3 linked regions of the Homo sapiens genome follow. The protein of the gene in region 1 purifies or fractionates together with the protein of each later gene. This does not show direct contact. Each region holds a gene or a part of one and is shown in the gene's direction. Other genes may lie near its edges. The genes, in order: WDR43, UTP18 and APLF.

Region 1 (3,667 bases):
TCTTGAATTAAGACAGATTTTTAGGTGTCTTGGGCTGTGTGCATGCCCATGCGTGCTGTAGAGCTAAGATCCTGCACTATTAAGAAGATATTCTCTTTTCTATGGTATTGGCTTGTTTTACAGTGAAAGAATGGATTTCTCAGAACTTTATGCTAAAAACATATAGGCTGGTGAGCCGTAATTTAAAAAAACACGGAAGAGAAGTTCTGAAATCATAATAAATACTCAGCATTATAAACTGATGTAGTGCTTTTAAGTTAGGGTCATTGTCTTTTTGTTGGGAAGACATGAGCTGTTAACATCACTTTTGAAATGAAAGAAGTCTTGTGGCATTTGCCACTTGAGTGAGACTTTTGTCTCTGAAGTCACTGAATCACTGAGCCAGCCCTTGACCAGTCAGTGGGGCAACTTCTCTCTTGTGTGCTCTGAGCTGCTCTACTAGTTAAAGCTATTTGTTGACTCAAATTGAAGTTAATGCACGTTTATAAAGGTAAAAACTTTTGAGGCTCTTTTCTTGACAACTAAGCTAGAATTTGTGGAAAAATTAGGAGAGATAAAGGAGAGTTGGCTGCTTAGATATGGACTTACGGATTCATAGATTTTTGGGTATGAATCTCTTTGGTTGGGGAGTGAAGGCTTCGCTTAGGTTGGACCTGTCAGGAGGGGCGGCCTGTTTCTGAGAAGTGGAAACAGCATTGAGGCTTCTTGGACCTGTTAGGAGAGTACCAAGAACATACTAGGTTTTCCTATTTGCTGCCTTTTTTCCATAGGGGTGGGAGACGGGGGACATAGAATTACGAGTTTCTCTTCCCATTGGAGGGATTTCTTTTTGAAGTAGTGAGAAGTAAATCACCCAATAGCTTCTCTCTTCCCCCCTTTTAAAATGTCTTTTGTGGGCTGGTGGGCATTTGTATTTGTTCATTAACGATGTTTTAGTATTTGCAATACTAAATAAAAACATTGTTTTTCTTTTTTTCCAGGAAAGTCCCCAGAGGAAAAAAAGGAAATCAGAAGCTGTAGGAATGAGTAACCAGACTGACTTATTGGCTCTTGGCACAGCAGTTGGTAGCATTTTATTATACAGCACAGTAAAAGGAGAGTTACACAGTAAATTAATAGTAAGTGTGTGTATATTTTATTTAAAAGTGATGTGACAGGGAAGCTGATTATTAGAGATTATTAAAAAAAAAACACTTCAAGGTATGTGATGGGATCTGTGCAGTAGGGACAGTTTTCAGTCTCATCTACGTTTAAATAACTGAATAGTAATATTTGATAAAAGCTATAATAGTTAACAGCAGTCCTTATTATGGGTCAGAGTATGAAGACTTATTGACTAGGTTTAAAATAAGGAAGGGTTACAGGAACTCTAAGGAATCATAGATAGCAGCTGTGGAAAGCAGCTCCCCACCTCTTGACCTAGGGGAATAAAGGAGGCAGTTGAAATTACTGCTAACACTGAGATCTTTTAGGGGCAAGTGTTGTGCTGCTGTTGCTGTCTCTTGAAGAGTGGCCCCATGGGCATGGGATCGAGACTTCAAACTGAGAAGGAGGCTCCAGCTGCCTGGTGCTAGTGTCTCTGATGGAGATGATGAGATTGGTTCTCCTAGGGTTGGATAAATTGGATATTGGGTTCAGCTGCTGCTGTTGGGCATTACCACTGTTGGGGTGATGCAAATAAAGAGACAGGAAGGAACAAGTCCCTTCTCTCTCCATCCTTGTCTCCCTCTAGCAGTTGCTATTGGTAGAACCTATGGATCGAGCTGGGAAATCAGAAATCAGGTTGCTGAGTCCCAGCATCACAGCAGAATATAAAGGATGGTTTGGCATTGGAAGACAGTAACCGAACTGGTCTAGTAGGTTCAGACAATATCTATTGCAGTGTGTTTTTGTTCGCTGGACTTCTGTATATAGGAGTGTTTTAAGTTTTTTGTTTTAAATAACATTTGTCTATAGGAAATTTGTAACTACATAAAGTTGAAAAGGAAAAAAATTTATACCTAAGTCTGTCGCCGAGAGGTCCTCTTAATAATTTGTATATTTCTTTGCTTTATACATACATTAAAAAAATATAGTTGGCTTTCTGTTCATCTAGTTTGTATCCTGATTTTTTTCATTAGATTACAACATAACTATCTTATATTTGTCAATAACTGGTTATAGAGATTTTTAGTGACTGCTTAAAATCCCAACAAGTGGGATAGTCCATTATGTTACTTAACTTGTTGACCATTTAGGGGTTTCCAGATTTTTAAATTGTTGTAAAACAATTTCTTTTTCTTACATGGATTCACAGAATTACTAACCTAAAATTAGTGAGCCAAAGGGTTGCTATATATGTAGTATAAAAATACTTTCTGGAATAATTTTTACTAATTTATGCTTAATATCAGTGATAGGAGATAAGTACTTTATCTCAGCAGTATCATTACCACTACTGAATAGCCCAACAAAACAGCAACAACGACAACAAAGAAACAGCTAATTTGGTAGAGGAATATTTTAATCTGATTTTAAGTTTGCATTTAGGAATGTATTACTTGTTTTTATATTAAGATTACAAAAATAATACTCAACTATAAATGAATTTTAAAGCATTCAGAGATCCATCTCAAGAAAGCATTCTTCCCTATATTCTTCCCCCCTCCTCCAAGTCGAGTGTGGTCCTCAGGTGAGCTCTTACACCTACTATAGGTAGGAGCCTATCCTTTAATTGGATAGGTTTTTTGTGTTCAGCAGGTACCTAGCATCTTGTGCAGTGTGATAGCTGCTCAGCTGCTGTGGCTGCTGGAGCCTAGAAGACTTATTTTTTTTTAAAGACAGAGTCTCACTCTGTCGCCCAGGCTAGAGTGCAGTAGTGCGGTCTCAGCTCACTGCAACCTCTGCCTCCTGGGTTCAAGTGATTTTCGTGCCTCAGCCTCCTGAGTAGCTGGGATTACAGACGTGCACCACCATAGCTGGCTCATTTTTGTATTTTTAGTAGAGATGGGGTTTTGTCATGTTGGCCATGCTGGTGTCGAACTCCTGGCCTCGTGTGATCTGCCTGCTTGGCCTCCTAAAGTGCTGGGGTTACAGGCATGAGCCACCATACCCAGCCTAGAACTCCTTTTTATATCATTTCACAACCTTACAAGATTGTAAATACATCTTCGACAGGGATGAATTTATCAAAAAGGAGTCAAGAGGGTCAGGGTGAGGGGTACTGGGATGGTATGGTAAGGTGGAAAAGGACCAGGCTTTGGAGCTAGTCTGTCCTGAGGTTGAATCCTACTAGTTGTATGATCATGTGTGAATAATTTAACTTCTCATCCCTTAAATGGGTATTAACAGCCTACCTTGCATGATTTTATTAAGACTTAAATGTAATAATGTATTGAAAGTGCCTGGCTTGTAAGTGGTATTTAGTAAATATTTGTTGAATGAGTAAGTGAACAAGTGAGTGAACACATCGCTAAATTGCTTTCCAAAAGGGTATGCTAGTTTACACTGCTGCTGGCAATAGTATTATGTAACCTCACCAGCATGGGCATCATAAGGCTAAACACATTGCTACAGGAACAGACTAAAAATGCCACTTTGTTTTGGTTTGTATTTCTTTGATTACTAACAAGGTTGAATATTTTGGTATATTTTCTAACTGAATTCTTTCTGTGGAATGTATCTGTTC
Region 2 (3,667 bases), on another chromosome or scaffold:
ACCTTGCCTATTAGGTAGTCTAATACCTGTTGATAGATGTTGGAAGAGTTACACTAGTGAGTGGTGTTTTGTTTTGCTTCAGATTTTTGCTTCAATAATTTATCTGAGTGGAACTTAGAAGCTTTTTCTAAAAGTTCAACTCAAACCAACAGCTTGTGATTTTTTTCCTGTAAACCTAAAGGTACTGTCTATTAATGACTAACTGATGCAGTTTTCTTTTGTATATGTGAATGTATACAAGAAATATTCTTAGGCCGGGCATGGTGGCTCACACCTGTAATCCCAGCAGTTTGGGAGGCCAAGGCAGGTGGATCACCTGAGGTCAAGAGTTCGAGACCAGCCTGGCCAACATGGTGAAACCCTGTCTCTACTAAAAATACAAAAATTAACTACGCATGGTGGCACAAACCTGTAATCCCAGCTACTCGGGAGGCTGAGGCAGGAAAATCACTTGAACCCGGGAGAAGGAGGTTGCAGTGTGCTGAGATGGCGCAGTTACACTCCAGCCTGGGCGACAAGAGAAAAACTGCATCTCAAAAAAAAAAAAAGGAAAAAAGAAAAGAAATATTCTTAGTCCAGTTTTCCAGAACTAGGAGGGTTATAATAGGTCTGTATTTGTAGTCTCCTGTACTGTTAAGAGGGACTGAGAGTGGCCAGTTTACTTGCCTTTCAAGTTTAAAGCAAAATTAACAACTCTTTTTTTCGCTCTTTTATGCAGGGGATGGAGAAGTTTATGTTTGGGATGTGAACTCAAGGAAGTGCCTTAACAGATTTGTTGATGAAGGCAGTTTATATGGATTAAGCATTGCCACATCTAGGAATGGACAGTATGTTGCTTGTGGGTAAGTAAAGAGAGGTTCTTGTAACCTTAATCACATTGTGCTAATGAGAATATGTTGAGGAATTGAATATACTAGGTGGTGCATGAGTAGTTCTCTTTATAAACTATTCAGTAATATGAAATTGGTCAACCCAGCTGAGCTTTTTTCATTTTATCATCTTTGTGCAGTGTTGAATAATAATATTACAGTAGTTCCCCCCTTATCTGCAGTTTCACTGTTTGTGGTTTTAGTTACCTGTGGTTAATCACAATCTGAAATCTATGTAAGATATTTTGAGAGCAAGAGACCACATTCACGTAACTTTTATTAGGATATATTGTTACAATTGTTCTGTTTTATTATTAGTTGTGTTAGTCTGTTACTATGCCTAATTTATAAATTAAACTTTTTTATAGAGATGTGTGTATAGGAGAAAACACAGTACACACAGGGTTCAGTAATCCACAGTTTGAGGCATCCACTGGGGGTCTTGGAACATACGCCCTGCCAGATAAGAAGGGATTACTATAATTGCAGTTGAACACCTTTTTAGCAAAGAAAATGCTGGCGCTACCTTATATCATTGTATTTTTTCCTATTTAAAATACCTGTTTGATCACATCAAGTTTTCCTATAATTATTTTCAGCTTCTTGTCATTGATGAGGAGATAGAATAAGTAACTTTGGGTTTAAATCTTAAAGATACCTAAAGCATTTTTCCTTTATCCAGCTGGGGGTATAAATAAAAAACATGTTCCTAGGAAATACCATTTGATAGTATTGTAGAAACTTTAAAAATATTATCTAGAACACATTGTACTGTGCTATTACTGAAAACATTGGTTATTACACTGGGGAAAAGATGGCTGTGTTCTACTACTTGATTCTGAAGATGCAGGGTGAGAGGATGAGGCATTGGATACTTCGCAGTAATTCTAAGCTACCTTACTAAACCACTAATTAGAACCCATAATTCTGTAACTTCAAGAAGTAGGTTTTTGTGATTTTCTTAGACCAAACACAATTGAGCCATGAAATGATTTCAGTCAAATCCTCCCTGGGATGGGAAGTCAAGGGGTCTTGTTGTCCAGAAACTTAGCATACTCTCTACTCTTTGTTCACTCTCTCCTTCCAGGTTAAAACTGGGGAAACTGCTTGTATATATATCCCTACCACCGTTTGCAAATTGGAGTTTGGGAGGAAAGGCAAGTAGAACTAGGCTGTGGAGCTTGGAGACCAGGCCATCTGCCTTAGGCAGTAAGACAGTAACAGATCCCTTGGAGGGAGAGTGCCCTGATGAAGGCCCCTTCCTTTCCTACCCATACCCGTGCCAACCCTGTAGCGAGGGACATCTCAGCACAAGCCAAGCATTTACCAGGGTAGTGTGCGCTATGGCAGCAATTCATGAGTAGCAGATCTTCTGGGAATAAAGCTCCTTTAAAATGAAGACTGCTGTTTAAACTCATTATAAGTAGTTTTTAAATTTTTTTTATTATACTTTTAAGTTTTAGGGTACATGTGCATAACGTGCAGGTTTGTTACATATGTATACATGTGCCATGTTGGTGTGCTGCACCCATTAACTCATCATTTAGCATTAAGTATATCTCCTAATGCTATCCCTCCCCCTTCCCCCCCCGACCCACAGGCCCCGGTATGTGATGTTCCCCTTCCTGTGTCCATTATAAGTAGTTTTAAGAACTGCATTTGCCTCTATATGGGGCAAGAAAAACTGCGCAGAAATGATCTTCACTCAGATTTGTGAAGCCAGTCTTCATTGCCCTCTCTTTTTTGTATCACTTTTTATTAGCCCCCTTTGAAGGGCCTATATAGGAAAGAATCTAATACTAGTAGCTTAAACTCATTTAATTTTAATTGCCCTTCAGTGTAATTGATTTCTGATGTGCTTGGCCAACAACCATTTAAGCTTTTAGAATCTTCAAGTTATTCTTAAAGAATCTTAAGCAAATCTTTAAGCTTTTAGAAGAGGAAGAAAGGACAGGGAGATGAGCCTTGAGGTCACTGCAGCAATAGGCAGGCATCAGGTAATGAGTCACCAGGACAGTAGGAATGGCAGTGGGGGAATAAGCAAAGGATGTTTGTAATGTATTTGATAAGTGCTTAGAAGATGGGGAGTGGGAGAGAAGTATTCACATTCTCAGGCTCCAGGCCTGTGCAACCAGAGGAGTGGAATTGTCATTGAAGGGAGGCGGGAGGAGGGGTGATGGTGTTAGAAGAGATAATATGCATGTGGCCACCCCCACAAACCTTTAGGAATGCAGTGCATAATTAGGACTAAAGGCACTGATTTGGATGTGGTGGGTGATAGGTGGTCTGTGGGAGTAAATGAGATGAATGAGACACTAGAAGTAGGTTGGAAATAGAATCCTGGGGACAAGAATCAGTGGAGAAAGAGGTGACTGTGAAGGAATCAGGATGCAAGAAGAGTCAGTAAAGTTTAGCCTTCAAGAAGTCAACAGAAGGGGGAGAATTTGAATTCTGTTTTCAACCTGTTTGGTTGGAGGTTCTATAGGACATCTGTGGCTATAGTGGTGATAGCTGGTCTCTTTGTAACATGATTCCTGTAAATACCAGTTTGTGGGGTTAAATCTATATTCACTTAGGTTGTGAAAGCCCTTTTACTTGGTTTTTAATCTATTTTAATCCTTTTCTCTTTGTAGTTCTAATTGTGGAGTGGTAAATATATACAATCAAGATTCTTGTCTCCAAGAAACAAACCCAAAGCCAATAAAAGCTATAATGAACTTGGTTACAGGTGTTACTTCTCTGACCTTCAATCCTACTACAGAAATCTTGGCAATTGCTTCAGAAAAAATGAAAGAAGC
Region 3 (3,667 bases), about 40 Mb from region 1:
GTTATTGGTCTTTATGTAGATTATCTGAAACTAACTTGATATTTTGGAACCTTTGGAATCCTTAGGAACAGGACAAATAACATGAATTCATGTTATTTGACTTATCCAAGATCATATAATAAATGCCAGAGCTGTAACTGAGACCTAGCTCTGACTAACTTTAAAGCCCATGTACTAAGGCATATCACTGTATAGCTGCCTAAATTTACTCTTTATATGTTTGGTTTTTGTTTGCCTTTTTTGATCTGCCCTTGCGATCTCTCCTGGATCATCTCTCAGTTTAACTCTTTAATCCTTTATATGTAGGGGAATTTTTGCTGTTGTCAGGCTTTTTCATTTTTCAGCCAATACAGTTTATTATTATTATTATCATCACTATTATATATATATTTTTTATTTCAACAGGTTTTTGTGAAACAGGTGGTGTTTGGTTACATGGATAAGTTATTTAGTGATGATTTCTGAGATTTTGGTGCACCCATTACCCGAGCAGTGTACACTGTACCCAGTTTGTAATCTTTTATCCCTCACTCCCCGACCCTTCCTCCCAAGCCCTCAAAGTCTGTGGCATCATTCTCATGCCTTTGCATCCTTATACCTTAGCTCCCACTTATAAATGAGAAAATACAATGTTTGGTTTTTCATTCCTGAGTTACTTTACTTAGAATAATGCTCTCCAATTACATCCAGGTTGCTGCGAGTGCCATTATTTCATTCCTTTTTATGGCTGAGTAGTATTCCATGGTGTATTTGTATATATATAGAGAGAACAAATCTGGAGGCATCACGTTTTATATATATAATATATATAATTATATATAATGTTATATATAATATAATAATATATTATATATCCTATATAACATTATATATAATATATAATATAATATATATAATATAATATATAATAATATAATATAATATAATTATATATAATAATATATGTTAATATATAATATATAATAATATATTAATATATAATATATAATAACATGTTATTAATATATAACATGTTAATATATAATATGTTATTAATATATAATATACTAATATATAATAATACGTTATTGATCTATAACATATTAATATATGTTATTGATATATAATATATCAATATATAATAATGTTATTGATACATAATATATTAATATATGTTATTGATATATATAAATATATTAATATATGTCATTACTATATAATATATTAATATATGTCATTACTATATAATATATTAATATATGTCATTACTATATAATATATTAATATATGTCATTACTATATAATATATTAATATATCATTACTATATAATATATTCATATAGTAATATATGTTATTACTATATATTAATATATCTATATATTACTATATATTAATATATCTATATATGTTATTACTATATATTAATATATCAATGTTATTACTATATATTAATATATCAATATGTTATCACTATATATTAATATATCAATATATGTTATTAACATATGTCAATATATGTTAATAACATATAACAATATATCACTAATATATGTAATTAACATGTAACAGTATATCACTAATGTTATTAACATGTAACAATATATCACTAATATATGTTATTAACGTAACAATAATATATCACTAATATGTTATTAACATGTAACAATAATATATCACTAATATATGTTAATATATAACTAATATATCACTAATATCTACTGTTAATATATAACAGTAATATATCACTAATATAATGTTAATATATAACAGTAATATATCACTAATATGTGTTAATATATAGCAGTAATATATCACTAATATGTGTTAATATATAGCAGTAATATATCACTAATATGTGTTAATATATAGCAGTATTATATCACTAATATGTGTTAATATATAACCGTAATATATCACTAATATGTGTTAATATATAACAGTAATATATCACTAATATGTGTTAATATATAACAGTAATATATCACTAATATATAATAATATATAACAGTAATATATCATTAATATATAATATATCATTAGTATATAATATTAATATATATTAATATATAATATATCATATACAATATTAATATATATTAATATATAATAATATATTATTAATGTATAATAGTAATATAATATATTATCAATATATATTACTAATATATAATAATATATCGTTAATATATAATAGATCATTAATATATAATGTTAATATATTATGAATAGATAATATATCAGTATATAATATTAATATATTAATATATTATATATTATTTAATAATATATAATATATTAATAAATAATTATATATTAATATAGCAATATATTAATATATGACTGTATTATATTATTAATATATAACAATATATTATATATTATATAATAATTTATTATATAATATATAATAATATATTATATATTATATAACATATTAATAATACATAATAACATTAATAATATATAATAATGTTAATATATTATTATATTATATATTAATATATAATAATATATCAATAATGTATCATGAATATATAATATATCAATAATATATCATGAATATATAATATATCATTAATATATCATGAATATATAATAATATATCATTAATATATCATGAATATATAATAAATCAATATATCATGAATATATATCATTAATATATCATGAATATACAATAATATATCATTAATATATCATGAATATATCATTAATATATAATAAAATATTAATAATATATCATTATATAATAAAATATTAATAATCTATCATATAATAAAATATTAGTAATATATCATTAATATGTAATAAAATACTAATATTATGTCATTAATATGTAATAAAATATTAATATTATATCATTAATATATAATAAAATAATAATATATCATTAATATTAATATATTATATAATATTATTAATAATACATAATAATATGCTATTAATATACAATATCTGATAATATATTATTAATATATAATAATATATAATATATGATTAATATATAATAATATAATATATAATTAATATATAATAATAATATAATATATAATTAATATATAATAATATAATATATAATATATAAAACATATAATTTGACATTTTATATATATATAAAGACTTGACCAAAAATTGGACCAATGTGACTATATATTTATAATATATAAATATATATTATCTATATTTATTACATAATATATTATATATTATATATCATTTATATATAATATAATATATTATATGTATATTGTATATATAAAATGTCAAATTACTCTCATTTGTATTTTCAAAGTGAAGTGCCCAAAAACATGATTCATATTTTAAGTGGTACATCTACCAAGTGAAAGAAAATGTATTTGAAATGAAATACATGTTGAACTATTATAAGCAGTAGCAAAGAAGCAGTTGCAGTACAAAACAATTCTGAAAGAAAAGGAGTTATTTGCAGGGACCAGTTCACATTGGTTCAATTTTTGGTCAAGTTAAGTCTTTCTTTTATCAGAGAAATTATTCTACTGAGGGAAAGTGTCTGCCCCTCCCCACTACGATTCCCCATTTCCTTCCTGCAAATTGAGGATCAACACATACAGAGATGTTATTGACAAAAAAAAATTACACATGAAGTAATATATATAAATATATGTATATATATATATATTAGTTTCTTTATCTACTCATTGACTGATG

Evidence for each region.
Region 2: the proteins of WDR43 (region 1) and UTP18 purify together in Homo sapiens (affinity purification with mass spectrometry; one large-scale study listed by BioGRID and IntAct). This does not show direct contact.
Region 3: the proteins of WDR43 (region 1) and APLF purify together in Homo sapiens (co-immunoprecipitation; one large-scale study listed by IntAct). This does not show direct contact.

Annotation. Positions count from the first base shown.
Region 1 is NC_000002.12:28,901,007-28,904,673, forward strand, and holds part of WDR43 (WD repeat-containing protein 43), read left to right. Parts: intron 1-980; coding exon 981-1,118; intron 1,119-3,667. UniProt on the Homo sapiens protein: Ribosome biogenesis factor that coordinates hyperactive transcription and ribogenesis. Part of the small subunit (SSU) processome, first precursor of the small eukaryotic ribosomal subunit.
Region 2 is NC_000017.11:51,284,527-51,288,193, forward strand, and holds part of UTP18 (U3 small nucleolar RNA-associated protein 18 homolog), read left to right. Parts: intron 1-718; coding exon 719-842; intron 843-1,956; coding exon of another isoform or gene 1,957-2,233; exon of another isoform or gene 2,234-2,288; intron 2,289-3,502; coding exon 3,503-3,667. UniProt on the Homo sapiens protein: Part of the small subunit (SSU) processome, first precursor of the small eukaryotic ribosomal subunit.
Region 3 is NC_000002.12:68,516,056-68,519,722, forward strand, and holds part of APLF (aprataxin and PNK-like factor), read left to right. Parts: intron 1-3,667. UniProt on the Homo sapiens protein: Histone chaperone involved in single-strand and double-strand DNA break repair.